Regions from separate parts of the Homo sapiens genome. Here region 2 is linked to region 1. The links come from fine-mapping of genetic effects on gene expression. A gene starts in region 1. The other region holds a variant in brackets. All regions are shown on one strand. Distances are from middle to middle. Region 1 holds the start of DDX46 (DEAD-box helicase 46). Region 2 has its middle 23 kb from the start of LINC01843.

Region 1 (16,381 bases):
AATACAAAAAATTAGCTGGGCATGTTGGCACACACCTGCAGTCCCAGCTACTCGGGAGGCTGAGGCAAGAGAATTACTTGAACCCGGGAGGCGAAGGTTGCAGTGAGCCGAGATTGCACCACTGCATTCCAGCCAGGGCAACAGAACGAGACTTTGGCTGTTAAAAAAAAAAAAAAAATCTTCACTTATTACATCATCACCTCTGTCATCTATCAAATTACCATGTGTATGGATGCCTTTCTGGGCTCTTTACATGGTTCACTAATCTGTCTGTCCACTGCTAAACAAATTGCACATTGTCTTAATTTCTGTTAACTTTTTTTTGTTTTTTTTTTTTGAGAAGGAGTTTCACTCTTGTTGCCCAGGCTGGAGTGCAACGGCATGATCTCACCTCACCGCAACCTCTGCCTCCTGGGTTCAAGCGATTCTCCGGCCTCAGCCTCCAGAGTAGCTGGGATTACAGGCATACGCCACCACGCCCAGCTAATTTTGTATTTTTAGTAGAGACGGGGTTTATCCACAATGGTCAGGCTGGTCGCCAACTCCCAACCTCAGGTGATCCGCCCACCTTGGCCTCCCAAAGTGCAAGGATTACAGGCGTCAGCCACCGCGCCTGGCCTAATTTCTTAACTTTTAAGACAAGTCTTGGCTGGGCGCGGTGGCTCAGGCCTGTAATCCCAGCACTTTGGGAAGCCGAGGTGGGCAGATCACTTGAGGTCAGGAGTTCGAGACCAGCCTGGCAAACATGCCAAAACCCCATCTCCACTAAAAACATAAAAATTAGCTGGGATATTATGTCTGCCTCTTCATATAATCCCAGGACTTTTGGAGGCCTAGGTGAGAGGATTGCTTGAGTCTACAAGTTTAAGGTTAGTGAGCTATGTTCTTGCCACTTCACTCCAGCCTGGGCAACAGAGTGAGACCCTGCCTGAAAAGAAAATGACAGAGTTTCTACAAAGATGTCTATAAAATACATTTCTGATTGACAGTTATGTATTAAGTAAGAATACAATGTATTGAATGTTAAAACTGACAGAATCTATTATTTTCCAGTTGAATTATAAACATTATAGCCAATTAAAATAAAACACTGCCAACAGTTCATGGTAGGAGCCAAATGCAGTTAATTCTCTATAAATACAAACTTACAGGGAAAAAAAAAAAAGGCGCAGAGAAGGGAAGCAGTCCCCAGTCTGCACTATAGATGCAGCCCAATGATAACATTACCTATTCTCAGTTTTCTTGCTTTTATTTCCAGGACTGGAGGATCGGGATCGCCGGCCCCGGCTTCTACTCCTTGAGCGTCTCCTGTCTCTACTTCGAGATCTTCTTCGCTCTCGGCTTCTGTCTCTCTCTCTACTTCTGGAACGTCTGAAAGGGGGACACTTTTCATTTATTCTATGACCAAATGGAGCTACTATTTCAGATCAGGGGATTCTGTCCCACATTGAAAGAATCTTAATCACTACCATTATTAAAGGTGGAGGTCTCAATGAAGTAAAGCCAAGTCTTATAAGTGCTCAACGAAAAAAATGAGAATACTAATTTATTTCTTTCATTTTTTTAAAGACAAAGTCTCACACCTGTCACCCAGGCTGGAGTGCAGTGGCACAATTGCAGCTCACTGCAACCTCTGCCTTCTGGGTTCAAGTGATTCTCCTGCCTCAGCCTCCCCAGCAGCTGGGATTACAGATGTGCATCACCATGCCCGGCTAATTTTTTTTTTTTTTTTGGAGACAGAGTTTTGCTCTTGTTGCCCAGGCTGGAGTGCAATGGCGCAATCTCAGCTCACCACAACCTCCATCTCCTGGGTTAAAGCGATTCTCTTGCCTCAGCCTCCTGAGTAGCTGGGATTACAGGCATGCACCACCATGCCCAGCCAATTTTGTATTTTTACAGATGGGGTTTCTCCATGTTGGTCAGGCTGGTCTCGAACTCCCAACCGCAGGTGATCTGCCTGCCTCAGCCTCCCAAAGTGCTGGGATTACAGGCGTGAGCCACCATGCCAGGCCAGAGAATACTAATTTCATAAAGATGTTTGTGAAAAAACCATAATAAGTCTGTAATTAACATCGATTGAAAATCGATGGTCTAAGATAGAATATCTAGTTTCAGATAGCCTAAACCTAAGTATAAGGATGGGCATAATGGGTCTACTAAAAGATCACTAATCTGAAGATGAAGAGGCAAGAATTTCTATCCTGCTACTCCTGGTAACTAATGACATGATGAAGGTCAGATCTCCAACTTTCTGGGTCTCAGTTTCATCATCTATAAAATATGGAGACTTCACTAGACATCTTTAAAATCCCTCTTGCTCTAAAATCTTGTGATTCTACTTTCACACCCAAAAGTCAAAGACCAAATGTTAAATAACCATTTTCACTTAAGTACTTGAATTAATTGTGTGAAATTGTTCCTAGGACCACAAAATGTGAAAATGCTATCCACATTGTCACGGGTGAATATTTTCCCTGAATCCTACGTAACAACAATGTACTCCAATGTCTGAAAAGGATAAAGTTAAATTCTTTCTATGATCCACTCACAACACAATCTTGTCTTCCTTTCCTATTTTAATGAGAAACTGGGCAAGGTATGGTATCTCATACCTGTAGTCCCAACCCTTTGGGAGGCCACTAGCAACACAGTTAAGACCCCCATCTCTATGAAAAGCTTTTTTTAATTGGCTGGGTGTGGTGTGCACAGAAGATTATTTTCTTTTTTTCTGTTTTGAGATGGAGTCCTGATCTGTCGCCCAGGCTGGAGTACAGTGGCACCATGTCGGCTCACTACAACCTCCACCTCCCAGGTTCAAGCAAGTCTCCTGCCTCAGCTTCCCGAGCAGCTGGGTTTACAGGCATGCACCACCACACCTGGCTAATTTTTTTTTTTTTTTTTTTTTTAGTAGAGACGGGGTTTCACCATGTTGGCCAGGCTGGTCTCAAACTCCTGACCTCGTGATTCACCCACCTTGGCCTCCCAAAGTGCTGGGATTACAGGCATGAGCCACCATACCTGGCCAACTTTGTCACTATTAAAAATACAAAAATTATCCAGGCTTTGTGGAGCATGCCTGTAATCCCAGTTACTCAAGAGGCTGAGGCATGAGAATCACTTGAACCCGGGAGGCAGAGGTTCCAGTGAGCCTAGATCGTGCCACTGCACTCCAGCCTGGGTGACAGAGTGAGACTCTGTCTCAAAAAAAAAATAAATTAAAAAAAAAAAAAAGATTAAGGCGCTCTTTAGTTTAAATCTATGACAGCTCATTAAAATAGTTTAAGAGGCTTGGAGAGGGTCTGCTTTGTTTCCTTTTTCTGCCTGCTTTAGAGGCTGCTCTAAACACACTGTTTAGCAAAATGAAGAAAGAAAGAGAAAGAGAGAAAGAGTGAGGGAGGAAGGGAGAGAGAGTGGAAGGGAAGGAGATAGGGAGGAAGGAAGAGAGAGATGGAGGAAGGGAGGGAGGGAAGGAGGGAGAGAGGAAGGAAATTTTACAAATTTCAACAAGGGTGGCAAAAAAAAAAGGAAAGAAAATTAACACCTTGGTCAGCTCTCCTGGAGCAGAATTGGAATAGAACCCTCTTGAATATAACTTATTACTTTACTTTTTACTTCATTTTGTATGTCCCTCAGAGGGCTTCAAGGGATGTCTTTGGGTTACAGGAAATACAGCCTAAAGTTTCCAAACTAAAAACACTGTTTGATGGTCGGACACGGTGGCTCACACATGTAATCCCAGCACTTTGGGAGGCCAAGGTGGGAGGATCACATGAGGCCAGGAGATCGAGAGCAGCCTGGCCAACATGGCAAAACACCGTCTCTTTTAAAGACACAAAAATTAGACAGGTGTGGTGGTGCACATCTGAAATCCCAGCTACTTGGCAGGCTTAGGCATGAGAATCGCTTGAACCCAGGAGGTGGAGGTTGCAGTGAGCAGAGATGATACCACTGCACTCCAGTCTGAGCAACAGAGTGAGGCTCTGTCTCAAAAAAGATTAAAAAAAAAAAAAAACACTGTTTGATAGAGTCTTTGTAGGCACATCCTTCTGGGTCTAATCAAACAAGTAGGGGATAAAGAAAAGGGCCTGCAATTGGGCCACCAAACTCCAGTTGAAAACATACTTTTCAAGAAGCCTGCTATAGCCGAGAAGGCCCAATTTATCACTCGTCTTTTGGAAATTAATTAATGTCTTACCTCAGACGCTTCCTGTCCCTTGACCGAGATCTTCTTTTATCCCTGCTACGAGACCTCTCTCTCCTCCTATCTCTATCTCTACTTCTAGACCGTCTGTCATCTCCACGTTTACTTCTTTTGTCTGAGGGTGAGCGACTTCTAGACCGACTTCCAGAGCGACCCCGGGATGCCGATCGTTTTCGATAGTGGCTAGAACAATAAGTCAAAGATTAAGTTCAGCAAACACCATTAGCTTCTATTACATTTTATTACATTTTTTCTAAAAATAATTTCAGCAGACAAATTTAACACTCAAAGAACTTTTTATGAATTTTTCTAAAATTAGGAGGGAAAAAATGAACCCTTCTGCTTCAGCACAGACACATGTAGAGGTGGAAAATCTGTCTTGAAAGAGAGGCAAGGACAGTGAACAAAACAGACCAAGCTCCTGCCTTTGAGCTCCAGGCAGCTTACACTCCGGTAAAGGAAAAGACGGCAGACAAGTGAAGAAACAAACACTGTATATAGTATGTTTATATACAATATAAATATGACATTTGTTACAGAGGCTTGGAGGAAATAAAGGAGCCATGTAGATATACAGGGAATTTTCCACGCAAAAGGCACAAGTGCAAAGTCCCTAAAGAGGAAGCTTGACTGGTGAGTTTAAGGAACAGCAAGGATGCCAGTTGTGGCTAGTGTTGAAAGAGTGACACAGCGTGCCATAAGACGAGGTCAGAAAAACAGCAGGGAAGCCAAACCTGGAAGGCCTTACTGGCCATTATATAAGGACTCTGTCTTTTACACCAAGATGAAAATCTACTGGAAGACTTTAAGCAGAGGAGTGACACAACCTCATTAATGTTTTTATTTTTATTTTTAGAAACAGGCCTCACTCTATTATCCAGGATAGAGTGCAGTGATGTGCTCACAGTTCACTGCAACTTCAACTCTCTGAGGCTCAAGCAATCCTCCCACTTCAGCCTCCCAAGAAGCCGGAACTTCAGGCATGCGTCACCACACTTAGCTAATTATTATTATTATTTTTTTTTTTTGAGAAAGAGTCTGGCTCTGTTGCCTAGGCTGGAGTGCAGTGGCACAATCTCAGCTCACTGCAAGCTCCACCTCCCGGGTTCACACCATTCTCCTGCCTCAGCCTCCCGAGTAGCTAGGACTATAGGCGTCCGCCATTACGCCAGGCTAAATTTTTTTTGCATTTTTAGAAGAGATGGGGTTTCACCATGTTAGCCAGGATGGTCTCGATCTCCTGACCTCGTGATCCACCTGCCTCAGCCTCCCAAAGTGCTGGGATTACAGGCTTGGGCCACTGCGCCCGGCCACTCAGCTAATTATTTTTATTTTATTTTATTTATTTTTTTTGAGACAGAGTCGCACTCTTGTTGCCCAGGCTGGAATGCAATAGCACCATCTCAGCTCACTGCAACCTCTGCCTCCCAGGTTCAAGCAATCCTCCTACCTCAGCCTCCCAAGCAGCTGGGATTACAGGCCTATACTACCACGCCCAGCCAGTTTCGTATCTTTAGTAGATGAGGCAGTTTCACCACATTGGTCAGGCTGGTCTGGAACTCCTGACCTCAGGTGATCTACCTGCCTCAGCCTCCCAAAGTGCTGGGATGGATTACAGGCATGAGCCACCGCATGCAGCCTTTTTATCATTTTTTTAAATTTCTTTTTTGAGACAAGGTCTCACTCTGTCACCCAGGCTGGAATGCAGCAGCTCAATTGCTACTCACTGTAACCTCAACCTACTGGGCCCCAGCAATCCTTCCACCTCAATCTCCAGAGTAGCTGAGACCAAAGGCACACACCACCGCGCCCACCAATTTTTTTTTTTTTTTTTTTTGGGTAGAGATGGTGTCTCACTATGTTGCTCAGGATTGTCTTAACCTCCCGGCCTCAAGCATCTTCCCACCTCAGCCTCCCAAGTAGCTGGGACCAAAAGCATAAAAGCGTGTGCCACTATGCCCACCTATTTATTTCTTTTTATTTTTCATTTTTGTAGAGATGGAGTCTTGCTATGTTGCTCAGGATGGTCTCAAACTCCTGGGCTCAAGCAATCCTTCCACTTAATGTAATCCCAAAATGCTGGGATTACAGGTGTGAGCCACTGCACCTGGCCTAATGTTTTTAAAGTATTATTCTGGTTGCTGAGAGAACAAACCAAACAAAGGGAGGCAAGGACAAAAGGAGAAAGAATAGGCAGGATTAGCAAAGACCAGCACTATAGCAATCATCCAGGCATGAGATAGTGGTGGCATAGATCAAAATGGAAGGTGGAAAGATTTTGAGAAATATCAAAATCTGGATATCTTGAAGCTAGCACCGATGGGATTTAATGATGAACTAAATGTCAAGTGTGACAGCAAGAGAGAAATCACTCAGTTGCCATTTACCAAGATGGGAAGGCTGAGGGAGAAATCCAGGGAGAAGGTGGATCAGAATATTAGGTATCCAAGTGGAGATATATAGTATATAGTTGAAATATTAGCCTGTAGTTCAAGGAAGAGGTTTCTCTAGAAATATAAACTGGACAGCTATTAGTGTACAAAGGCTATTTAAAGCTATAAACCTAAATAAGATCACTAGGAGATGAATGCACCTGATTATCTCTCAAGCACCTCAAGTTCAATCTGTAGAAACCCAAACTTGTTACCCTTCCCTCCCCAAACGATTAATCGTACCAACTTCCGGTCACTAGGCTCAAAACATTAGTCATCATCAATATTTTTCTCTTGCTCTCATTCGATACAATAAATAAAACACCAATTGGCTGGGCACAGCGGCTCATGCCTGTAATCCCAGCATTTTGGCAGGCCAAGGTGGGCAGAGAGCTTGACCTCAGGAGTTGAGACCAGCCTGGGCAACATGGTGAAACCCTGTCTCTACAAAAAATACAAAAATTAGCAAAGCGTGGTGGCACACGCTTGCAGTCCCAGCTATTCGGGAGGCTGAGGTGGGAGGATCTCTTGAACCTGGGAAGCATAGGTTGCAGTGAGCCAAGATTGTTTCAATGCACTCCAGCCTGGGAGACAGAGCAAGTCCCTGTCTCAAAAACAAAAAAACAGGCCGGGTGCGGTGGCTCACGCCTGTAATCCCAGAACTTTGGGAGGCCGAGGCGGGTGGATCACAAGGTCAGGAGATCGAGACCACCCTGGCTAACACGGTGAAACCCCGTCTCTACTAAAAAATACAAAAATTAGCCTGACGCGGTGGCAGGCGCCTGTAGTTCCAGCTACTCGGGAGGCTGAGGCAGGAGAATGGCGTGAACCCTGGAGGCGGAGCTTGCAGTGAGCCGAGATCCCACCACTGCACTCCAGCCTGGCGAAAGAGCGAGACTCTGTCTCAAAAACAAAAACAAAAACAAAAAAACAACCAAGTAATACCAATTTCACCTCTGTAATTCCCTTCACATTATATCACCTCCACAGAGTTCCAACCGTCACTATTCTATATCAGACATATCTACCTAGGAGATTCTTAAAGACTGTAGTCTTCCTGTTTCTATTACTTTTCCATTAAATCTTACTCATTGCTGCTAAGGAGAATTCTGATTCTATTACACACTTTTTACTCAAAATCTTCAAAGGTTCACAAACAAATTCTGATCTTCAAAATCTACAATCCACCCGCTTTCTGGGCCCAAGTCCTATTCAGGACCTACCTCCTACTACTTCTCAAAAAAGATAAAATCCCTTCATGAAACCTACATATGCAGAAAAATTGGGCTTTTTAGCTATTTCTCTAACACCTTGCGCCTTCCCACCTCTAAGCCTTTCATGATTCCCTGAACAAACCTAGAGCACAGGCCATGCACACCAGAGAGGTAAAGGAGAAGGCTGACGGGCTAGAATGGACCTTCTTGTGAAGGGCCTTGAAGGCTGTCATAGAGTTTAAATTTCATCTTGGAAGCAGTAGAAACCAATGGAGACTAAGTCAGGGGCATGCCATCATCTTATCTCTACTTCAGAAGTGTCACTCTGGCTGTAGTGTAAGGGATCTAACAATTAGGAGAGCAACAGAGGAAGACAATCAATTCAGAGAATCAATTTAAAACAGATGTAGTAGTCTGGACAATAAATAATTAGGGCCTCAATTAAGTCAGGGACAACCAGAATGGGCAAAGGATGTAGAATCTAACAGGCTGTGGGTAGTGAGAGAGAAGAATGAGTCAAATAAATATCACTTTCAGATTTCTGGTCTGGACAGCCTTCCGGAGATTTAAAACACCGTCACAGGAATTTTCTGTAGTTAAAGAAATATTTTTTATCTTCATCCAGGTGATGATTACACGGTTTATATATTTGCTAAATTTCATCAAGCTTTACCCTTACGTTTTGTCCATTTCCCTGATTGTTAATTGTACCTCAACAAAGAACTGTTAGCACTAACAACAAAAGCCTTCATTGTTCCTAGACATAAAATATCTTTCAGTCATTGCTAAATACATAGCAAATAGTCATTTTTAACATAAAAATCTCAAGGTTCCTAACAATCTATCAACAATCTAAAGTTGTGATGAGATCTAATGAGTTCTAATAAGAGCTCATAGTCCACAACTTCAAAAGGACAGAAAAGCAGGTAACAAAGTTACCTGCTTAAATACGAAATCTATTTGCGAAGTAAATGCCCACGCAACAAGTATTTATTGTAGCCCAGTAAAAGCCTAGTCGTGTATAGTGCTGTCGATGCGGTAAAAATGTCTGCCCACACGCTCCTTTCAAGTAACTTGGGAAAAGATCATACGCGCACAAAGAACTAAAATACAGAATGACAGGAGTCGAGGAAATGTTGGAAACGCGAAGCAATAAGCAATCCAACTGGGATCACTTCTGACTGAAGTAATCAGGGCAGGCTCCCTTGAAGTGGCGGGATGTGGTGCCCAATCACTAACGTCCTGGAGGGTTGTTCCCGCTCCAGGGGCTCGAACCCTCTGATGGTAGTGCAGGGGAAGCCGTCGCTGGCCCAAACACAACCATTCCCTCAGCCGAGGTCCCCCAGCCCTTCCAATGCTCGCGGGGCAGCGCTGACCGCACGTGGGGCCGCGCCAGGCCTGGCCCGGCGGCCACCTCAACTCCCGCCTCTTCTCACGACCCCAAGAAGCCGCTCGCCCGCTAGCCCGCTCGGCGCTCTGCCTCACCGTGACTCCCGACCCATGCTGCCGACCGCGGGAATACTGGTGCCCTTGAGTACCACGCACAGGCGAACCGGACAAACAAGGAGGCTGAGCTGCCCTCAACGCCCGGCAAAGACCAGCGCTAAACACTAGCAGCACCTACAGCTGTGGCGGCCATCCCAGCGCGGCCAACGAAAACAGGACGTGCTGGCGCCGGCAGCCGAAGGAAGAGAAAAGCCGACCGGAAGCTGCCGCTCTTCCACAGCGCCCCACCTCGACTGGAGGACGCACAGCGCCGGCCCCATCGAAAGGTGATGCCTTCGCCCCGCCCAGTCTTCCCGGCGCCCGCACCACGCCCGGCTGATTAGTGCGATGGAGCGCAGCGCGTCAGCCTCGCCGGCCCGTGAGGGTGTTTCGCGCCAGAGCCAAAGAGGCGTCCTGGGCAGGCTGATGTCTGCCTTAATTTGCGCTAAATAATGCGGCAACTTTCTCCGTACACGCTCTTTATTCATGTATACATTCACTCATTTATTTATGTTGTCATATGCCAGGCTTGTGCTAGATCCTGGGGAGCTCACAGTCTATCCGGGAAACAGATGACTAAAGCCAGCACAGTGGCTCACGCCTGAAATCCCAGCACTTTGGGAGGCTGAGGCGGGAGGATCTATTGAGCCCAGGAATTCAAGACCTGGGCAACGTAGCCCTCGTCTCTGCAAAGAAAATAGTAATAATAATAGACTTGACTAAAAACACAAGCAGAAGTAATACAGCAAGGAGAGTCCACCATTGGAGACGGATTCAGAAAACACGTTTCCCTTGGAAGTGAACTCTGAGGTGAGATTTGAAGACCCGGTAGGTGTTAACCTAGTAGAGAACAAAGAGCTAAAAATACTTTGGCAAAAGATTAGTTCTCAACATTGCTTGCACTGGGAAGCTTAAAAATAAAACAAAAAAACAAAAAAAGGGCCAGCCATGGTGGCTCATGCCTATAATCCCAGCACTTTGGGAGGCCGAGGCAGGAGGATGGCTTGAGCCCAGGAATTCAAGACCTACCTGGGCAACATAGCGAGACCCTCTACAAAAAATAAGCAAAATAATTAGCCAGGTGTGCTGGCACGCCTGTGGTTCTAGCTACTTGGGAGGCTGAGGTGAGAGGATCATTTGAGCCAGGGAGGCTGAGGCAAGAAGATTACTTGAGCCCAGGAGTTTGAGGCTGCAGTGAGCTATGATGACTCCAGCCTGGGTAGCACAGAGAAATCTCATCTCTAAAATATTAGTAAATAAAATAGAAGCCTGGGTTCCACCCCTATGTTCTGATTTAATTGGCCTGGAGTGCTTCTTGTGCACTGGGAATTTTTAAGCTTCCCAGGTAATTCTGAAGTACAGTCAAGATTGAGAACATTATTCGAGAGTTTGGGCACCAAAAAAATGTATATGTATTGTCTCATGCAACACACACAGAAATGTTGAATTTTTTTTGTTTTTTTTTTTTGAGACGGAGTTTCGCTTTTGTTGCCCAGGCTGGAGTGCAATGGTGAGAGCTCAGCTCACCACAACCTCCACCTCCTGGGTTCAAGCGATTCTCCTGCCTCAGCCTCCCAAGTAGCTGGGATTACAGGCATGCACCACCACCCCAGCTTATTTTGTATTTTTAGTAGAGATGGGGTTTCTCCATGTTGGTCAGGCTGGTCTTGAACTCTCGACCTCAGGAGACCTGCCCGCCTCGGCCTCCCAAAGTGCTGGGATTACAGGCATGAGCCACCGTGCCCGGCCATGTTGAGTTGTTTTTGCAAAAAGCTATAATGGAGTTGGAGAAAGGCTCATATTTTTACTTTACTTGCCTCTGTACTATTTTACTTTCTTACACCTAAAGATGATGGAAAAGTTCTGTGTCTTGATTTTAGTGGTCATTGAATAGATTTGCACATTTTTCAAAATTCACTGAACTGTACCCTTTAACTGTACATGACTTATTGTATGTAAATTTTACCTCAACATAGTTGATTAAAGAAAAAAAGCAAACCAACGAGTGACACTCCAAGATGAGTTTATGCTCCCCACGCCCCCCGTGGCTTGCTGCCCACCTGTGGTAGCTGCGAGAAGCATTGAAGAGGGATAGAGACTGGAGGTTCTGGCAGTCCATGCCAAGGGTAAGAAGGCCTGAGCTAATTAATGAGTGACAGGATGGACACCAAGGAGGGTTAGGAATCCCCCTGTAAATTGTTTGGATGTGGGCTGCAGGTAGGGAATGTGGATTTCAACCTAAAAGACATAGAAAACCACCAGTGGCTTAAACAATGAAGACTGAGAAGTGATCAGATTCTGGGTGTATTCTGGAAGCAGCTCTCAAAGCGCCAATAGATAAACTGGATGTGAGCTATGACGGAAAGGAAGGAATAAAAGATGACTGCCAGGTTTTCAACAGAGCTATTGTGGACTGTGGTGAATTTGTGGAGATGAGAAAAGCATGGAAGCAACAGATTTAGTGGAGGAAATAGAGAAAGTCATTGAGTTTGTTTCAGTCATGTGATATTTGAGGTGCCTACTAGACATCCAGGAAATAACAGCTACAAATAGAGGCGGGAGAGATATGGGTCCTCAGCATTTTATAGAATGTATAATACACAGTATTTGAAGCCATGGACTGGATGAGGCCATGCAGAAGTGAATGGAAATAAGTCCTTAATTTTTGAAATTAACACAATTTGAATATTGCTTAGAATCACAGGATTAGGGCCAGATGCAGTGGCTCATGACTGTCATCCCAGCACTTTAGGAGGCTGAGGCGGGTGGATCACATGAGGGCAGGACTTCAAGGCCAGCCTTGCCAACATGGTGAAATTATGTCTCTACTAAAGATACAAAAATTAGCTGGGTGTGGTGGTGCGTGCTAATCCCAGCTACTCGGGAGGCTGAGGCATGAGAATCACTTGAAACCGGGAGACAGAGGTTGCAGTGAGCCAAGATCGCGCCACTGCACTCCAGCCTGTGCGACAGAGCGAGACTCTGTCTCAAAAAATAATAATAAAAAGAATCATGGGATTAATGTTATAGATTTTTAAAATCACAAACTCAAACTTCTTGATTTTAAGTAACAAAACTGAGACTCAGGAAACATATTTCATCCTAGATCACTAACCTTGTTGGAATCTAACCTGGAACTAGAGTCCAGAGATCTGACACTTAGGCCAGAGCTGTCTTCAAGATACTTTATTTCCAACTCCCCTTTAAGACAACACATTAACAAGACAATTCTAACTGGCTTAAATATTTCTTATATATATAATATATATTCTAATTAATATTACATTAATATAATATATATAGAATATATATTTTATATATATATATATATATATATATATATATATTTTTTTTTTTTTTTTTTTTTTTTTTGAGACAGGGCCTGGTTCTGTTGCCCAGGCTGGAGTGCAGTACTGTGATCTCGGCTCACTGCAGCCTCCTCCCAGGTTCAAGCGAATCTTGTGCCTCAACTTCCCAAGTAGCTAGTAGCTGGGACTACAGGCACACACCACCCCACCAGCTAACTTTTGTATTTTTCATAGAGAGGGTTTCGCCATGTTGCCCAAGCTGGTCTCAAACTCCTGGACTCCTGGTCTCAAGCGATCTGCCTCTCTTGGCCTCCCAAAGTGCTGGGATTACAGGTGTGCACCACCCCCACTCCACCACAATATATTTATAGTAAATTCACATCAAGTCTGTCCTGGAGGAAGGCTTTTTTTTTTCTTTTTTTAGAGACGGAGTTTCACTCTTGTTGCCCAGGCTGGAGTGCAATGGCGCGATCTCGACTCACTGCAACCTTGCCTCCTAGGTTCAAGCGATTCTCCTGCCTCAGCCTCCCAAATAGCTGGGATTACAGGCATGAGCCACCACTCCCAGCTAATTTTGTATTTTTAGTAGAGACGGGGTTTCTCCATGTTGGTCAGGCTGGTCGCGAACTCTCGATCTCAGGTGATCTGCTGCCTCGGCCTCCCAAAGTGCTGGGATTACAGGTGTGAGGCTGGAAGATTTTATCTATTTAGATAGGTGAAAGAAATGACTATAGTCTGTGTTCTAATACATCACTTTCAGTAAACTAACCTGTTTTCCAAAGCAGCAGATTTTGACTGTGACTTGACTTACTAACCCAGTATTGAATATCTAATAACCCACTTGCTGTTTTTAGTGCCAACTGTGATGACACATGTCCATTTACACAACTAATTGAACTAAAAAAACTACTAGGTTACATGGTCAAGATGTCACCTCTAAACAACCATCCTTGTCCCTCTAGTTTTAATCCATATACCTTTTTTTTTTTTTTTTGAGACAGAGTCTCACTCTGTTGTCCAGGCTGGAGTGCAGTGGCGCGATCTCAGTTCACTGCAACCTCTGCCTCCCGGGTTCAAGTGATTCTCATGCCTCAGCCTCTTGAGTAGCTGGGATTACAGACGCGCCCGCCACCACACCTGGCTAATTTTTTTTTGTTTTGGTTTGGTTTTTTTAGTAGAGACAGGGTTTCACCATGTTGGCCAGGCTGGTTTCAAACTCCTGACTTCAAGTGATCCACCCGCCTCGGCCTCCCAAAGTGCTGGCATTACAGGCATGAGTCATGGTGCCCAGCCAGTCCATATACATTTCAAAACCCAGAAATTTCCAAATAAAAAACGTTTTAAACTATTCCAAACACTAAGAAACTTCAATTCCCAGGCCAGGCGCAGTGGTTCTCGCTTGTAATCCCAGCACTTTGGGAGGCCAAGGTGGGTGGATCACATGAGGCCAGGAGTTCGAGACCAGCCTGGCCAACATGGTGAAACCTGTCTCTACTAAAAATACAAAAAATTAGCCAGATGTGGTGGCATGCATCTGTAATCCCAGCTACTCGGGAAGCTGAGGCATGAGAATCGCTTGAACCAGCCCGGGGGGCGGGCAGAGGCTGCAGTAAGCTGAGACTGACATCACTGCACTCCAGCCTGGGCGACAGAGACTCTGTTCTGAAAAAAACAAAACAAAAATTAGCCAGGGGTGGTGGCACATGCCTGTGGTCCCAGCTACTTGCAAGGCTGAGGTGGGAAGATTGCTTGGGCCTGGGAAAGCAAGGCTGCAGTGAGCCCTGATCATGCCACTGCACTCCGACAGGGGCAACATAGTGAGACCTTGTCTCAAAAAAAAGAAACTTTCAGGTCGGCTGCAGTGGCTCACACTTTTTTTTTTTTTTGAGACAGAGACTTGCTCTGTCGCCCAGGCTGGAGTGCAGTGGCACGATCTTGGCTCACTGCAAGCTCCGCCTCCCAGGTTCATGCCATTCTCCTGCCTCAGCCTCCCGAGTAGCTGGGACTACAGGTGCCTGCCACCATGCCTGGCTAATTTTTTGTATTTTTAGTAGAGACGGGGTTTCACCGTGTTAGCCAGGATGGTCTCGATCTCCTGACCTCATGATCTGCCCGCCTCGGCTTCCCAAAGTGCTGGAATTACAGGCGTGAGCCACCACGCCCGGCCTCACACTTTTAATCTCAGCAAATTGGGAGGCTGAGACAGGCAGATCACTTGAGGTCAGGAGTTTGAGACCTGCCTGGCCAACATGGTGAAACCGCCATCTCTACTAAAAATACAAAAATTAGCCAGGCATGGTGGCAATGCCTGTAATCCCAGCTACTCACTACTCAGGAGGCTGAGGCGTGAGCACTGCTTGAACCTGAGAGGCAGAGGTTGTACATCATGCCACTGCACTCCAGCCTGGGCAACAGAGTGAAACTGTCAAACAAAACACAACAAAACAGGCCGGGCGCAGTGGCTTACACCTGTAATCCCAGCACTTTGGGAGGCCGAGGCAGGTGGATCACCTGAGCTTTGGAGTTCCAGACCAGCCTGACCAACATGGAGAAACCCCGTCTCTACTAAAAATACAAAATTAGCTGGGCGTGGTAGTGCATGCCTATAAACTCAGCTACTCGGGAGGCTGAGGCAGGAGAATTGCTTGAACCCCAGAGGCAGAGGCTACAGTGAGCCGAGATTGTGCCATTGCACTCCAGCCTGGGCAACAAGAACGAAACTCTGTCTCAGAAAAAAAAAAAACAACACAAACAAACAAAAAAAACTTTCATTTCTACTTGATATTATTCAACAAATCAAGCAAATGATCAGGGAGATGCCTATCAGTTAAAGACAAAAAATGGCACCAATAGATACAGATATCTTATAACTGTCTTCAAAATATAAATTTGATAATGATCTACAATTACTAAAATTTTGCATGTGTCAGCTGGCTAAATGATTTTTTTTTTTTAAGAAAGAAAAGTAGGCCAGGCACAATGGCTCATACCTGTAATCCTAGCATTTTGGGAGGCCAAGGCAGGAGGACTGCTTGAGCCCAGTTTGAGACCAGCCTGGGTAACATGGTAAGATCCTGTCTCTACAAAAAATCAAAAAATTAGCCAGGCATTAATGGTCCCAGTTACTTGGGAGGCTGAGACAGGAGGATTGCTTGAGCCCAGGAGGTCAATCAAGGCTCCAGTGAGCCATGATTGTGCTACCACTACACTCCAGCCTGGACAACAGTGGTAAACACTGTTTGGAAAAAAAAAAAAGCACCAAAAGAGTAAACATGTGCAATGTGCAATTGAAGACCACTAGTATCTTCTCAGCGATTAAGGAAGTGACAACTTTAAGGATGATTTACAACCCTTTAGATACTAGATTCATTATGGAATCAGGAAAAATGTGTGCTTATAATCTTTCACCCAAATCAGAAGAATAGACTTAAATTATTCTTCATTACCCTGGTTCAAAATGAAATGACAGAAATCAAGACTTAAAGAGTAATTTTTTAAAAAGTGTATGTGTTTTTAATGTCACAAGGATTAACCAAATTAGACTATACAAAAATCTGTAAGGAAATGTAACACCAAGTGACATTAACACTTTAGTCTTATATTCTTTTAAGAAGACAACCCAACAAAATATGGCAGTTACTGAGTTAGTTAAAAGGATATTTATAAGGCCAGGTGCAGTGGCTCACGCCTGTAATCCCAGCACTTTGGGAGGCCGAGGTGGGCAGATCACCTGAGGTCAGA
Region 2 (16,381 bases), 280 kb after region 1:
GGAGACAGAGAAGAGGCAACTAGAGACATAGGAGGGAAACTGGAGACAGAGATGTGAGCCTGACACCAGGGAGGAGAAGCCTGTTCCACGCTACGGAGGTGCAAGGAAGGTGAGGTCCGATAATTGCCCGCTGCATCTAACGTGGAGAGTCCTTGAAAAGGCAGTTCTGCTGTAGTGGTGGCGCCCTGATGGGAGCTGGGGGAGAAAAAGGAAGGAAGGGAGGAGAGGAGTTGAAGGTAGCAAAGAATTCTTTCTAGGAGTTATGCCGTAAAGAGGAGAGAAGAAATAGGGTCAAGAGGAGGGCTTTCTTTGAGAAGAATTGCAGCTTTTTTGTGTGCTGACGAAAATGATCCTGGAGAGAGGGAAATTTGATGCTGTGGGTGAGAAGGGGGCTAGGTGTTGGCATGAAGTCTTTGAGTAGGTGGGAGGGGATGGCATCTGGTGCACGAAAAGGGGCTGCCCTGAAATAGGAGCACGGACGGCTCGCCCATGTCAGTGGGATGGCAGGCAGAGTGGAGGGCACAGATGCGGGTGGGTGGGGGAGTAGTGGTGGGGCCTGTGGAACTTCTCTTCTGAGAGCTTCTATTTTCTTAGCAAAATCGGAAGAGGTTGTCAGCTGAGAATGAGGTGGAAGAGGAGGTGTGAAGCAGTCGTCTAGGAGAGGGGGTGTGAATAGGCTTGGAGATATAGTAGGATTGCTGGGCAGCTGTTAGGGCTCACTCAGGGAGGGTTGTGGTCATTAATTTAAAGTGAGACTGGTCAGCCCAGTTATGAGATTTTCTTCAGTTCTGGTCAGCCTGGAGGTGCACAGGTGGAGGGGGCAGAGGACTGAATTTAACTGAGGTTGTGATTTTGCCAGGTGACTACTGTGGCCAGCGGGAGAGTATAGTATTGGATCATGAACTCCAAGCTGGGTAAGGAGGGAAGGCGGGCACTATGAGGATGAGGAATGGTGAATATTTGCTTGGAGCAGTAGGTTCCAGGAGGAATTGCTGGCTTTGGGGTCCTGCGGGAGTGAGCTGGAGAGCAAGGCAGTGTTTATTGGAGTGTGAGATGCATGAAATTGAGATGACGAAGGGATTGCATTGACAGATAATGGCGGGTTCAAAATCTGGCTATGGGAGCAAGAGGCTGAGGTACTAGGGAAGCCAAGATCGTGGAGAGGAGGTCAAGGGCCTGAGAGGCATTCATCTACATGAATGCTCACATCGAAAACTGCAGCAGGAGTCGGGTGGGAGACGAGGACTGGGAGCCAGGAGCAAACATCCTCAAGGAATGAGGGAAGTGACCCAGGGCTTTGTAAATTGCTACAAAAAGGAGGAATAACAGTGATCTTGTCTGACAGTATGACATTCAAATATGGGTGTTTCTAAAGAGGGTGGCAAACTGTCTAGCAGTGGCACTGAGGAGCAAAATGGGCACCTCCTTACCCCTAGACCCGGGGCCACAAGGGCCACAGAGGGAAAACGGCCACCTCTTAAGAGGCTGCAGAGGGGGCAGAATCCACACAGGAGAGGCAGTTTCCATTAAAGCAAGAAAGTGAAGGGGACATTCAGAAATGGGGCTGAGAATATAGGGCCATACTGGTGAGTTTCAGAGAGTCCCGTGAAAGGATTTCTAGAGATGGGGTAGGGAGATGAGGTCAGCAAAGCAAAATACAGCATCCGGTAGGGCTTCGAGTCCTGGGGTGCAGGCTACCTGAGTGTTCTGGGCCTCCTGTGGGAACTGCTGTGAGCAGAGATAAAGGGTCTGAGGGGCCCAAGGCTGGGCTTGTTGGCAGGTGGAGGGGTTTTTCACTCCTGCTGATGATGGTGCTGTGAAGCTCTGAGGAGGGGCAGTCTTTTTAGAGCAGGTGGGGCTCTGGCTCCCTCCTTACTCCCAGGTAGGAATGTCAATCAAAACTCTCAGGCCAGGCTCAGCGGCTCATGCCTGTAATTCCAGCACTCTGGGAGGCCAAGGCGGGCAGATTACCTGAGGTCAGGAGTTCAAGACCAGCCTGGCCAACATGGTGAAACCCCATCTCTTCTAAAAATACAAAATTTAGCCAGGCATGGTAGCACATGCCTGTAATCCCAGTTACTTGGGAGGCTGAGACACGAGAATCACTAGAACCCGGGAGGTGAAGGCTGCAGTGAGCCAAGATTATGCCGCTACACTCCAGCCTGGGCAACAAAGCAAGACTTTGACCCTTGCCCCCACCAAAAAAAAAAAAAGCTCTCTTCACAGAACTAATACTAAGCCACAGACACATCAGTGAAAAATAATTGCCCAGAAATAGACTCATATATGGCATAATAAATCTGTAGTAAACTTGGGCCTCAAAACAGTAGGGATAAGAAACATGATTTTTTTTTTTTTTTTTTAATTTTTGCAGGGACAATTGGTTAACTAATGGGGACAAAATAAGTCCAGATCTTTACTTCAGATCTCATACTAAATGAATTCATGTGAATTAAAAACTGTAAAAATGTAGTGTTTGTGTAAAGATAGAACACTCATATATATGGTCAATAGATTTTCAACAAATGCTACCAATGCAATTCAATGGGGAGTGAACAATCTTTCCCCAACAAATAGTGCTGGAACAATTGTATAGCCATATGCAACATAATGAACCTTGACTCTTAGGCCAGTACAAAACGCTAACTTGATATGGATCATAGGCCTATATGTATGAGCTAAAACTATCAAACTTCTAGAAAAAAACATAGCAGAAAATCTTAGTGATCTTGGGTTTGGCAGAGACTTCTTAAATGGGCTACAAAGAGCACAAACTATAAAAATCGATAAATTGGGCATCATCAAAATTAAGAGCTATTATGAAAGGCAAGCCACAGACTGGAAAAAAAAATTGTAAAACATATATCTTAAAACTCAATAAAAAGATAACCCAATTGAAAAATGGGCAAAAGAATTGAATATGCACCTCATCAATGAAATATATTTAGATGGCAAATAAATACATGAAAAGATGCTCAACACAGTTTGTCATTAGGCAACTACAAATTAAAACTACATGCCCCCTAGAAGGGCTAGAATTTAAAATAACTGACCAGGCTAGGCGTGGTGGCTCACATCTGTAATCCCAGCACTTTCATAGGCCGAGGCAGCCGGATCACCTGAGGTCGGGAGTTTGAGACCAGCCTGGCCAATATGGTGAAACCCTGTCTCTACTAAAAATACAAAAATTAGCAGGGCATGGTGGCATGCGCCTGTAATCCCAGCTACTTGGGAGACTGAGGCAGGAAAATCGCTTGAACCCAGGAGGTGGAGATTGCAGTGAGCCGAGATCTTGCCACCGCACTCCAGGCTGGGCGACAGGGCGAGACTCCATCTCAAAACAGAAAAACAAACAATAAAACAAAATAACTGACCAAATCAAGTATTGGCAAAGATGGAGTCCAGGAAGGGTACAACAGGAACTCTCTCATATGCTGCTGATGAGAACGCAAAATGGAACAACCACTTCGGAAAACACTTAGATCATTTCTTAAAAAGATAAATATATACCTATCATATGACCCAGCCATTCCATTCCTAGGTATTTACCAAAGAGAAATGAAAGCATATGTCCATACAAAGTTTTGTACACAATGTTCATAGTTGCTTTATTTATAACAGCCCCAAACTGGGAATAATCCAAATGTCTATCAACAAGATAGTGGAAAAACAAATTGCCATATATCCAGATAATGGAATACTGCTCAACAATAAAAAGGAATGAACTGCTGTTACATACAACAACATAGATGAGCCTCAATATAATTAGTATATACTGTATAGTTCCATTAATATATGATTCTAGAAAAAAGACCAACCTATAGTGACGGATCAGGAGGCACAAGGAGACACTAGGGGATTATGAGTATATTATATGAACACTGCAGAGTCTAACCTTTCTTCACTTGATAGGCATTTATGTTGTTTCCAGTTTGGGCCCTGTGGTAGACAGAGAGATGTGTCACCCAGATCCCTCTTCAAGGAAGGATTTGCTGTCCAGTTGTAGAGGGTGTGATCAGCAGAAACCTTCAGATGACAGCTTCTTTGGGGTCCACCTGAGCTGCAGAGAGCTGCCTTGCCCAACATCATATCCTTTCCAGAGCACTTTGCATCTAGTATCCAACGAAAGCAAGTGAATGGAGGCTGGGCCATTTTCATCCAACACAGGACAACTCAGATGCAGACTATTTGCACCAGAGTTCCCCGCCAGCTTGGCTTGGGTTTCATTAGGCCTGCATCACAGTTTTAACTTCTGCCCAATCCTGCTTTTTCTCCCTTCCCTTCAGAGATGTTTGTATTAGTCTATTTGTGTTGCTATAAAGGAATCCCTGAGACTGGGTAATTTATTAAGAAAAGAGGGTCGGGTGTGGTGGCTCATGCCTGTAGTCCCAGCACTTTGGGAGGCCTAGGTGGTCGGATCACCTGAGGTTAGGAGTTCGAGACCAGCCTTGCCAACACTGTGAAACTCTGTCTCTACTAAATATACAAAAATTAGCCCAATGTGGTGGTGGGTGCCCATAATCCCAGCTACTCGGAAGGTTGAGGCAGGAGAATTGCTTGAACACAGGAGAAGGAGGTTGCAGTGAGCCGAGGTCACGTCATTGTACTTTAGCCTGGGCAACAAGAGCAAAACTCCATCTCAAAAAAAAAAAAAAGAAAAAAGAAAGAAAAGAGGTGGAGGGAGAAGAGCAGGAAAAAAAAGAAAAAAAAAGTAGGCTTATTTGGCTCACCATTCTGCAGGCTGTACATGAAGCATGATGCTGCCAGCATCTACTTTATGGAAGGACCTCAGGAAGCTTCCTCTCATGGTGGAAGGCAAAGGGGGAGCAGGTGTGTCACATGGCAAGAGATGGAGCAAGAGAGGAGGAAGTAACAGGCTCCTTTAAACAACCAGCTCTCCTGTGAACTCATTACCACTCATTACTGCAGCAAGGGCACCAAACCATTCATGAGGGATCAGCCCTGTGACCCGATGCCTACCACTAGGCCCACCTCCAGCATTGTGGGTCACATTTCAACATGATATTTGAAGGAGACAAATATCCAAACCATATCAATGTTGATCCTAATAAATATCTTGTACCCCAAACTCTATCCCAGCATGTTTCCTGAGAACCTGACCTATGACAAGACTACTACAAACAATGCTTCTATGAACATTCTTGTCCATGTTTCCTGATGCACGTAAGCTCACTTTTCTGTAGGATATTTATCTAAGAGCAGAATTGCTGGGGCATAGAGTATGTTATTTTCAGCTTAATTGGATAATGCTGAACTGTATTCTAAAGTAGTTATACAAGTTTGTGTAAATTTACATGAATGAGTGTTTTTGCTAAAACTTGGAATTGTCAAAATTTTAAATTTTGGTCAGTTTGGTAAGTGTGTAGTAGTACTTTATTATGCTTTTATTTTACCTTTCCCACATTACTAAAGAAGTTGATCACATTTTTATGTTACTGACTTTTGGATTTCTTTTTTGTAAAGTTCCTATCTTTTGCCCATTTTTCTGCTGGATTGCCTGTCTTTTATCACTAATTGATATGAATTCTGTATATATTCTAGCAACAAGATTTTTGTCAGTTTTATCTGTTGCAATTATCTTCTATTACTCTGTGGCTGGCCTTTCACTCAATGTTGTCTTTTGATGAACAGATATTCCTAATTTTGTCCATCTTTCCTTTGCGATATTACTTTTTGTACCTTACTTAAGAAAACTTTTAAAATCCAAGACTATGAAGATATTCTTCTACATTATTACTTTAAAGCTTTGTAATTTTGTCTTTTATATTTAGGGCCATATGACACTGGAGTTGATTTTGAGGTATGGTGTGAGGTAGGGGTCCAATTTTATTATTTTCACATATGGGTACTCAGATATCCCAGCAAAGTTTATTGAGAGTCTTTTTGCCACTGCTATATAGTGCCATCTCTGTCATACATCAAGCATCTAAATATGTGTGGATCTATTTCTGTGATCTCATCTCTTTTCCATTGGGCTTATTGCGCATCCCCAAATCAATGCCATCCCCTTTTAATTACAACAGCTTTATAGTAATTTAGTACTTACAGAAATTTAGAGCAATTTCTTTAACTTCATTCTTCCTCTGTAGTGACCTAGCTCTTCTCGGTCTTTCACATGTCCACGTAAACGTAAAAATTATCTTACCAAGTTCTAGAAAAAAATCCATCTCGCTTTGTCACTCAGGCTGGAGTGCAGTGGCATGATCATAACTCATTACAGCCTTGAACTCTTGGGCTCAGGTATGCCTCCTACTTTATCCTCCTGAGTAGCTGCAACTTCAGGTGTGTGCCACCATGCTCAGCTAATTTTTATATGTTTTTTGTAGAGATGTGAGATGTGGTTTCGTCATGTTGCCCAGCTGGTCTCAAACTCCTGGGCTCAAGCGATCCTCCAGCCTCAGCCTCCCAAAGTGCTGGGATTATAGACTAATGTGAGCCACAGCACCTAGCTACATGGGTTTTTATTAGAAATTACATTGAGTCTGTATATCACTGTGAGAAGAACTGACAGTGTTTGTAATATTGAGTTTTCAAATCCATGAACATCATATATTACTCTATTTACTGAGATCTTCTTTGGTTTCTGTCAATAATACTATATATTTTTCTGCATTAGAGACTTATTCAGCTGTTACTAAATTCTGAATAATTTGGTATTTTAAAATTATATTATGAAGGCTGTCCTTTTAAAATATAATTTTCCCTTTGTTGCTGTTAAACACATTGATTTTTGTATATTGATTTTTTTGAAGTCCAGGAAACTTGAATTATAGATTAATTCTAATTATAGATTTAAAAATTCCTTCTGTATACAATCATAACATCTATAATTTTTGCTTTTTTTTTTTTTTTTTTTTTTACAATCCTTATTCCTTTTCTTTTCTTTTTTGGAGACAGAGTCTCATTCTGTCACCCAGGTTGGAGTGCAGTGGTGCAATCCCGGCTCACTGCAACCTCTCCCTCCCAGGTTCAAGTGATTCTCCTGCTTCAGCCTCCCACGTAGGTGGGATTACAGGCACCTGCCACCATACCCAGCTAATTTTTGTATTTTTAGTAGAGGTGGGGTTTCACCATGTTGGACAGGCTGGTCTCAAACTCCTGATCTCAAGTGATCCGCCTGCCTTGACCTCCCGTGAGCCACCGCGCCTGGCATCATTACTACCACTTTTATTTAACATTATACTAACGGTTCTGGCCATCACAGTAAAAAACAAAACAAAACAAAACAAAACACGGGCCGGGCGCGTTGGCTCCTGCCTGTAATCCCAGCACTTTGGGAGGCTGAGGCGGGTGGATCACGAGGTCAGGAGATCAACAGCATCCTGGCTAACACGGTGAAACCCCGTCTCTACTAAAAATACAAAAAATTAGCCGGGCGTGGTGGCCTGCGTCTGTGGTCCCAGCTACTTGGGAGGCTGAGGCAGCAGAAAGGCGTGAACCCAGGAGGCGGAGCTTGCAGTGAGCAGAGATCACGCCATTGCACTCCAACCCAGGAGGCGGAGCTTGCAGTGAGTGGAGATCACGCCATTGCACTCCAGCCTAGGAGCTCGCAGTGAGTGGAGATCACGCCATTGCACTCCAACCCAGGAGGCGGAACTTGCCGTGAGCGGAGATCACGCCATCGCACTCCAGCTTAGGAGCTCGCAGTGAGTGGAGATCACGCCATTGCACTCCAACCCAGGAGGCGGAACTTGCCGTGAGCGGAGATGACGCCATCGCACTCCAGCCTAGGAGCTCGCAGTGAGTGGAGATCACGCCATTGCACTCCAACCCAGGAGGCGGAGCTTGCTGTGAGCGGAGATCACGCCATTGCACTCCAGCCCGGGCGACAGGGCGAGACGGGAGTCTCAAAAAAAAAAAAAAAAA[AAT/T]GTAGTAATGAATGTCTCTGTTTTGTTCCAGTTTTCAAAGGGAAAACTTTCATTGTTTTACCACGAGGTATAATCCTTGTTTTATTTCTTTAAAGACAGCCTTTATATAATCAAGACAGCTTCTTTACATTTCCAGTTTGATAAAAGTGACCTTTAAAAAATTATTCAGGCCGGGCGCGGTGGCTTACGTCTGTAATCCCAGCACTTTGGGAGGCCAAGGCGGGCGGATCACGAGGTCAGGAGATCGAGACAATCCTGACTAACACGGTGAAACCCCGTCTCTACTAAAAATACAAAAAATTAGCCGGGCGTGGTGGCGTGCGTCTGTGGTCCCAGCTACTTGGGAGGCTGAGGCAGCAGAAAGGCGTGAACCCAGGAGGCGGAGCTTGCAGTGAGTGGAGATCACGCCTTTGCACTCCAACCCAGGAGGTGGAGCTTGCAGTGAGCGGAGATCACGCCATTGCATTCCAGCCTAGGAGCTCGCAGTGAGTGGAGATCACGCCATTGCACTCCAACCCAGGAGGCGGAACTTGCCGTGAGCGGAGATCACGCCATCGCACTCCAGCTTAGGAGCTCGCAGTGAGTGGAGATCACGCCATTGCACTCCAACCCAGGAGGCGGAACTTGCCATGAGCGGAGATGACGCCATCGCACTCCAGCCTAGGAGCTCGCAGTGAGTGGAGATCACGCCATTGCACTCCAACCCAGGAGGCGGAGCTTGCTGTGAGCGGAGATCACGCCATTGCACTCCAGCCCGGGCGACAGGGCGAGACGGGAGTCTCAAAAAAAAAAAAAAAAAAAAAAAAGTGGTAGTAGTGAATATCTCTGTTTTGTTCCATTTTCAAAGGGAAAACTTTCATTGTTTCACCACGAGGTATAATCCTTGTTTTAGTTATTTTTTTAAAGACAGCCTTTATGTGATCAAGAAAGCTTCTTTACATTTCCAGTTTGATAAAAGTGACCTTAAAAAATTATTCAGGCCGGGCGCGGTGACTCACGTCTGTAATCCCAGCACTTTGGGAGGCCAAGGCGGGTGGATCACGAGGTCAGGAGTTGGAGACCATCCTGGCTAACACGGTGAAACCCCGTCTCTACTAAAAATACAAAAAATTAGCCGGGCGTGGTGGCGGGCGCCTGTAGTCTCAGCTACTTGGGAAGCTGAGGCAGGAGAATGGTGTGAACCCGGGAGGCGGAGCTTGCAGTGAGCCGAGATCGCGCCACGGCACTCCAGCCTGGGCGGCAGAGCAAGACTCTGTCTCAAAAAAAAAAAAAAAAAAAAAAAAAAAGAAACAAACAAAATACAAAATTATTCAAGGCTGGGCATGGTGGCTCATGCCTGTAATCCCAGCACTTTGGGAGGCCGAGATGGGAGGATCACTTGAGGTCAGGAGCTCGAGACCAGCCTGGCCAACATGGTGAAACCCCGTCTCTACTAAAAATACAAAAATTAGCCAGGCATAGTGGTGGGCACCTGTAGTCCCAGCTACTCGGGAGGCTGAGGCAGGGAATCGCTTGAACCTGGGAGGCAGAAGTTGCAGTGAGCCGAGATTGCGCCATTGCACTCCAGCCTGGGCAAAGAGCAAGATTCTGTCTCAAAAAAAAAAAAAAAAAATTCATTCATTTAATTCAATGTTGTGTTTTATAAAATACTTTTCCTGCATCCACTGAGATAACTGTAGTCCTTTAATCTGTTAATATGATAAATTGCATTAACTTGTTTTTTTGTTTTGTTTTGTTTTTTTGAGACAGTTTCACTCTTGTTTCCCAGGCTGGAGTGCAATGGTGTGACCTCAGCTCACCACAACCTCCACCTCCGTGGTTCAAGCGATTCTCCTGCCTCAGCCTCCCGAGTAGCTGGGATTACAGGCCTGCACCACCACGTTGTATTTTTAGTAGAGACAGGGTTTCTCCATGTTGGTCAGGGTGGTCTCGAACTCCCAGCCTCAGGTGATCCGCCTGCCTCTCTGCCTCCCAAAGTGCCGGGATTACAGGCGTGAGCCACCATGCCCGGCCAATTTTTTTTTTTTTTTTTTAATATAACCTGATGGTCATATGTACTATCCTTTTTATATGTTGCTAAATTTTAACAATACTTTGTTTAGGGTTTTTATATCTGTGTTTATAAAGGAGATCAGTCTTTAATTTTTCCATTTTGACCTTGTCAGATTTGGGGACCAGGGTCATGTTAGCTCTATAAAATAAGTTGAGGAAGGTAACACCAGTTCTTTGGGAATAGAAACTTCTGAACTTCTAGAAGAGTTTGTGTAGGAATAGAATTTATTTTCCGTTGGATATTCAATGTAATTCACAGGTTAGGCTATCTGGGTTTGGAGTTTTCTTTGTGGGAAGATTTTAAATTATGGTTTCAATCTTTTCTTTGAGACAGAGTCTTGCTCTTGTCGCCCAGGCTGGAGTGCAATGGCGCAGTCTGGGCCACTGCAACCTCCACCTCCTGAGTTCAAGCGATTCTCTTGCCTCAGCCTGCCAGGTAGCTGGGATTACAGGCACCTGCCACCATGCCCAGATAGTTTTTTGTATTTTTAGTAGAGATGGGGTTTTGCCATGCTGGCCAGTCTGGTCTCGAATTCCTGACCTCAGGTGATCCACCTGCCTAGGCCTCCCAAAGTGCTGGGATTACAGACATGAGCCACAGTGCCTGGCCAGTTTCAATCTCTAATAGTTATAGGACTATTCACGTTTTCTCCTTCTTCATGAGTCATTTGGTAAATTATTATTTCTGGGAATTTTTTCATTTCATCTATATGTTTTTATTGGCAATAAGTTGTTCATAACTTCTTAGTAATTTTTAGATGTATATGTGATCTCTTGTAATGTCTTCTTCATTCCTAATATTTGTTTATTCTTTTTTTCTTTGTTAGCTCACCCGAGTTTTGTCATTTGAATTAGTCTTTTGGAAGAACAAAGTTTCATATTAAAAAAAAATTATTGTCAAGGCATGGTGGCTCACACCTGTAATCCCAGCACTTTGGGAGGCCGAGGCAGGTGGATCACAAGGTCAGGAGTTTGAGACCAGCCTGACCAACATGGTGAAACCCTGTCTCTACTAAAAATACAAAAATTAGCTGGGCGTGGTGGTGTGCACCTGTAATCTCAGCTACTCAGGAGGCTGAAGCAGGAGAATCGCTTGAACCCAAAAAGTGGAGCTGGCAGCGAGCTGAGATCATGCCATTGCATTCCAGCCTGGGTGACAGAGTGAGACTCTGTCTCAAAAAAAAAAAAAATATTTCTATTGTTTGTTTGTTTTTTATTACCTGAAATTTTTCTCTTACATTTATTATTTCATCTTCTTTCTTTGAGAATAACTTCCTGAAATATATCCTTGGTTTATCCATTTTTAACAAGTGTTCTTTTAAAATGTATGCATTTAATGCTATAGATTTTTCACTAAATACTGTCCTAGCTATACCCACAACATTTTATATGTAATATTTTTACTATTTAAGTAGTCTCTTCGTTATCCAGAGATTGGCTTTCTGTGGTTTCCATTATCCATAATTAATCGCAACCTAAAAATATTAAATGAAAAATTCCAGAGGTAAACTATTCATAAGTTTTAAACTGCGTGCCATTCTGAGTGATGCGATGAAATCTCACAATGTCCTGATTCTTCCCACTGGGAATGTGAATTGTCCCTTTGTCCAGGGTATCCACACTGTATACACTGCCCATCTGTTAGTCACTTAGAAGCTGTCTGGGTTATCCAATGGACTGTCATGGTTTTGCAGTGCTTGTGTTAGGTAACCCTTACTTTACTTCATAATGGCCCCAAAGTACAAAAGTTGTGATGTTGGCATATTGTTATAATTGTTCTATTTTTTTTATTATTGTTACTAATCTCCTAGTGTGACTAATTTATCAATTAAACTTTATCATAGGTGTGTACATGTAGGAAAAACCATCATGTACATAGGGTTTGACACTATGCATGGTTTCAGGCATCTACTGGGGTTCTTGAAATGTAACCCCCATGGATAAGGGGGGATTACCGTCATCAGTTATTTTTCTTATGAAATGGTAGGAGTTCTTTACATTCTGGATACAAGCCATTTACTAGTTATTTCATAAATATTTCCTCTTACTTTGGGTCATTCTCATAATGATATTTTGATAAACAAATTTTAAATTTTAGTATGATTCAATTTGTGCATCTTTTTGCATGTTTAGTTTAATAATTTTTTTTCTATCCTGAGGTCATAAAGATATTTTCCTATAGTACCTTTTAAAAGCTTTCTATTTTTGGCTGGATGTCGTGACTCATGCCTGTAATTCTAGCACTTCGGGAGGCTGATGTGGGAGGTTTGCTTGAGTCCAGGAGTTCAAGGCTGCAGTGAGCTATCAGTGTGCCCCTGCACTCCAGCCTGACAACAGAGTGAGACCCTGCCTCTAAAAAATAAAAATAAAAAATTTTGAAAAGGCTGGGTGCAGTGCCTCACACCTGTAATCCCAGCACTTTGGGAGATCGAGGCGGGTGGATCACTTGAGGGTCAGGAGTTCAAGACCAGCCTAGCCAACATGGTGAAACCCCATCTCTACTAAAAATACAAAAAATTAGCTGGGTATGGTGGCAGGTGCCTGTAATCCTAGTTATTCAGGAGGCAGAGGCAGGAGAATTGCTTGAACTCGGGAGATAGAGGTTGCAGTGAGCTGAGATTGCACCACTACACTCCAGCCTGGGCGACAGAGCAAGACTCCATCAAAATCAATCAATCAATCAATCTTTATATCTTCGCCCTTTCTTTTTCTTTTGAGATACGATCTCACTTTGTCACCAAGGCTGGGGTGCAGTGGTGTGATCTTGGCTCACCGCAGCCTCCACCTCCCAGGCTCAATGAGCCTCCCACTTCAGCTTCCCAAGAAGGCAAGCACCACCATGCTCAGCTAATTTTTAATTTTTTGTAAAGACAAGATCTCACTATATTGCCCAGGCTGGTCTCAAACTCCTAGCCTCAAGCAGTCTTCCCACCTTGGCCTCCCAGAGTGCTGGGATTAAAGGCGTGAGACACTCTGCCCAGCCTAAAGACCTTTTTGAAATATAATAATTCATAATGTTGCTCAAACTGTGGGAAAAATACTGGCAGTTTGCTTGAAGAATCTTACAAATGTTGGCCCCTCCCGTTTTGATGCAAGGCAGGCAACCCTTCAAATTGGGACTTAGCCTGGGAGGGTTCTTGGCTTTGCCCAGGAAAGAAATCAAGGGCAAGCTGGGGGTGTTAGATAGCAACTTTTTTTTTTTTTTTTTAATTTTAAAAAATTTTTTGAGATGGAGTCTCTCTCTGTCCCCAGGCTGGAGTGCAGTGGTGCAATCTTGGCTTACTGCAACCTCCACCTCCCGAGTTCAAGCGATTCTCCTGCTTCAGCCTCCCAAGTAGCTGGGACTGTAGGCACGCACCACCACACCCAGCTAATTTTTATTTATTTATTTATTTTTTTAGTCGAGATGGGGTTTCACCACGTTGGCCAGGATGGTCTTGATCTCCTGACCTTGTGATCCACCTACCTTGGCCTCCCAAAGTGCTGTAATTACAGGCGTGAGCCACCGCGCCTGGCTATTTTTGTATTTTTTGTAGAGATGGGGTTTCACCATATTGGTCAGGTTGGTCTCGAACTCCTGACCTTGTGATCCACCTGCCTCGGTCTCCCAAATCCCACACTGGGATTATATGCGTGAGCTGCCGCGCCCGGCCAGACAGCAACTTTTACTGAAGGGTGAGCTGGAGGTGTTAGCCAGCCACTTTTATTGAAGTGGTGATATTCAGCAGCAGCAGAAGTACTGCTTCTTGTGGAGCAGGGATACTCCATAGACACTATGCTGAGAGTAGCAGCTCAAAGGCAGGTCTGCTGTCATATTTATATCACTTTTTATTAAATGCAAATTAAGGGGCAGATTATGCAGAAATTTCTAGTAAAGGGATGGTAACTTCCAGGTCACTGGGTCGTTGCCATGGAAAGGGACAGTAACTTCTGGGTGTTGCCATGGCAGTGGTAAACTGACATGACACACTGGCAGGGCATGTCTTATGGAAAGCTGCTTCCACCCAGTCCCTATTTTAACTAGTCCTCAATTTGCTTCAGTGTCAGCACTCTACTTCCGGAGTCGAGTCCTGACCCCTGCCTCACTTTGACCCAATTACTTCTAGGAATCAATCCTAAGAAAATGGTTCTCAGATCAAGCATGGTGACTCACGCCTGTAATCCCAGCACTTTGGGAGGCCAAAGCAGGCAGATCATTTGAGGTCAGGACTTCTAGACCAGCCTGGCCAACATGGTGAGAGTCTCTACTACTAAAAATACAAAAATTAGCTGGGTGTGGTGGCAGCAACCACCTGTAATTCCAGCTGCTTGGGAGGCTGAGGCAGGAGAATCTCTTGAACCTGGGAGGCGGAGGTGGCAGTGAGCTGAGATCCTGCCACACTCCAGCCTGGGAGACAGAGCAAGATTCTGTCTCAAAAACAAAATAAAACAAAACAAAAAAACAAAACAAAAAAAACCAAAAAGGGTTCTCAGTAAATAATAATTACTTCTAAGAAACAATCATAAGGATATTCATTAAACCACAACATGTAATGATAAAAAATGTTAGATGAGTTAGATATATAGTAAAATAAGACATATTTATAATGAAATGTTTTGTAGCTATTGAGAATTTATTATGGGATTCTGAGATTGCACATAATCCTTAACTATTATTTCACTTCATCACAAATATGTACATATGTACGTATTGTAATTTAAAAATCAAATAAGTTTTTTTTTTTTTTTTTTTTGAGATGGAGTCTCACTCTGTCACCCAGGCTGGAGTACAGTGGCAGGAACTCGGCTCATTGCAAGCTCCGCCTCCCAGGTCCACGCCATTCTCCTGCCTCAGCCTCCCGAGTAGCTGGGACTACAGGTGCCCGCCACCACGCCTGGCTAATTTTTTTTTGTATTTTTAGTGGAGACAGAGTTTCACCGTGTTAGCCAGGATGGTCTCAATCTCCTGACCTCGTGATCCGCCCGTCTCGGCCCCCAAAGTGCTGGGATTACAGGCTTGAGCCACCGCGCCTGGCCTCAAGTAAGATATTTTAAAGATACTTTAAAGTAACACTTCTTTTTTTTTTTTTTTTTTTTTGAGACAGAGTCTTACTCTGTCACCCAGGCTGGAGTGCAATGGTGCAATCTCAGCTCCCTGCAACCTCTGCCTCCCAGGTTCAAGCGATTCTCCTGCGTCAGCCTCCCGAGTAGCTGGGATTACAGGGGTGCCCTATCACGCCCAGCTAATTTTTGTATTTTTAGTAGAGACGGGGTTTCACCATGTTGGCCAGGCTGGTCTCGAACTCCTGACCTCAGGTGATCCACCCGCCTTGGCCTCCCAAAGTGCTGGGATTACAGGCGTGAGCCACCACTCCTGGCTAAAGTCATACTTCTAAAGAGCTTTAAATCACATGTAGTAATGCTCACAAATGTAATTTTTTTTATTGAGGTGAGGTTCACATAAAAAAAATTTGGGGCTGGGTGTGGTGGTTCATGCCTGTAATCCCAGCACTTTGGGAGGCTGAGGCAGGAGGATCACTTGATCCTGGGAGGTCAAGGCTGCAGTGGGCCTGGGTGATGGAGTGAGACCATCTCAAAAAAGTTTTTTTGTTTTTTCCTAGTGTTTTGTTGAGGATTTTTATATCTATAATCATAAGAGATGTTGATCTGTAGTTTTCTTTTTTTGTTTTTGTTTTTTGAAGACAGGGCCTTACTCTGTTGCCCAGGCTGGAGTACAATGATACAATCTTGGCTCACTGCAGCATCAACTTCCCAGGGTCAAGGATCCTCCCACTTCAGCCTACTGAGTAGCTTGGACTACAGGTATAGGCCACCATGCTTGGCTAATTGTTTTGTATTTTTTGTAAAGACGAGGTCTCTGTTGCCTAGGCCAGTCTCGAACTCCTGGAGGCTCAAGGGATCCTCCTGCCTTGGCCTCCTAAAGTGCTGGGATTATAGGCATAAACCATGGCACTTGGCCTGTAGTTTTCTTTTCCTGTGATATCCTTGTCTGATGTTGATATCAGGGTAACACTGACCTTTATATACAAACTTTAAAGTCAGCAATTCAGTATCCTTTAGTACATTCACGATGTTATACACCCACCACCTCTATCTAGTTCCAAAACATTATCATCACTGCAAAAGGAAACCCTGTACCCATTAAGCACTGACTCTCCATTCCACTCCCTCCCACACACACACACCATTGAGCCCCTGGCAGCCACCAACCTGCATTCCATCTCTACGGATTTACTATTATGGATATTTCATATAAATGGAATCATGTAAGACCTTTTGTGTCTGGCTTATCACTTAGTCTGATGTTTTTGAGGTTCATCCATGTAGAATGTAGCAGTACTTCATTCCTTTTTTATGGATGATTAGTGTTCCATTGTAGCTTACAAGAGTAATTTTAACATTAAAAAACAACAAAATGGCATACCAAGCTCCATATAGAA

The links.
Region 2: its variant is fine-mapped to the expression of DDX46 in whole blood (INTERVAL, PIP above 0.99).

The regions. Positions count from the first base shown.
Region 1 is chr5:134,751,907-134,768,287 of GRCh38, reverse strand. DDX46 (DEAD-box helicase 46) reads right to left here and starts at 9,509. Exons shown (of 23, transcript NM_001300860.2): 1 at 9,333-9,509; 2 at 4,196-4,384; 3 at 1,228-1,371. The coding sequence starts at 9,349. It overlaps CAMLG (calcium modulating ligand), which reads right to left. Exons shown (of 4, transcript NM_001745.4): 4 at 16,131-16,381. RefSeq lists an enhancer at 9,245-9,734.
Region 2 is chr5:134,475,219-134,491,599 of GRCh38, reverse strand. No RefSeq gene overlaps it. Among named protein-coding and RNA genes, the nearest start is that of LINC01843, 23 kb to the left of the region's middle. The variant AAT/T (reference allele first, on the strand shown) is at 7,888.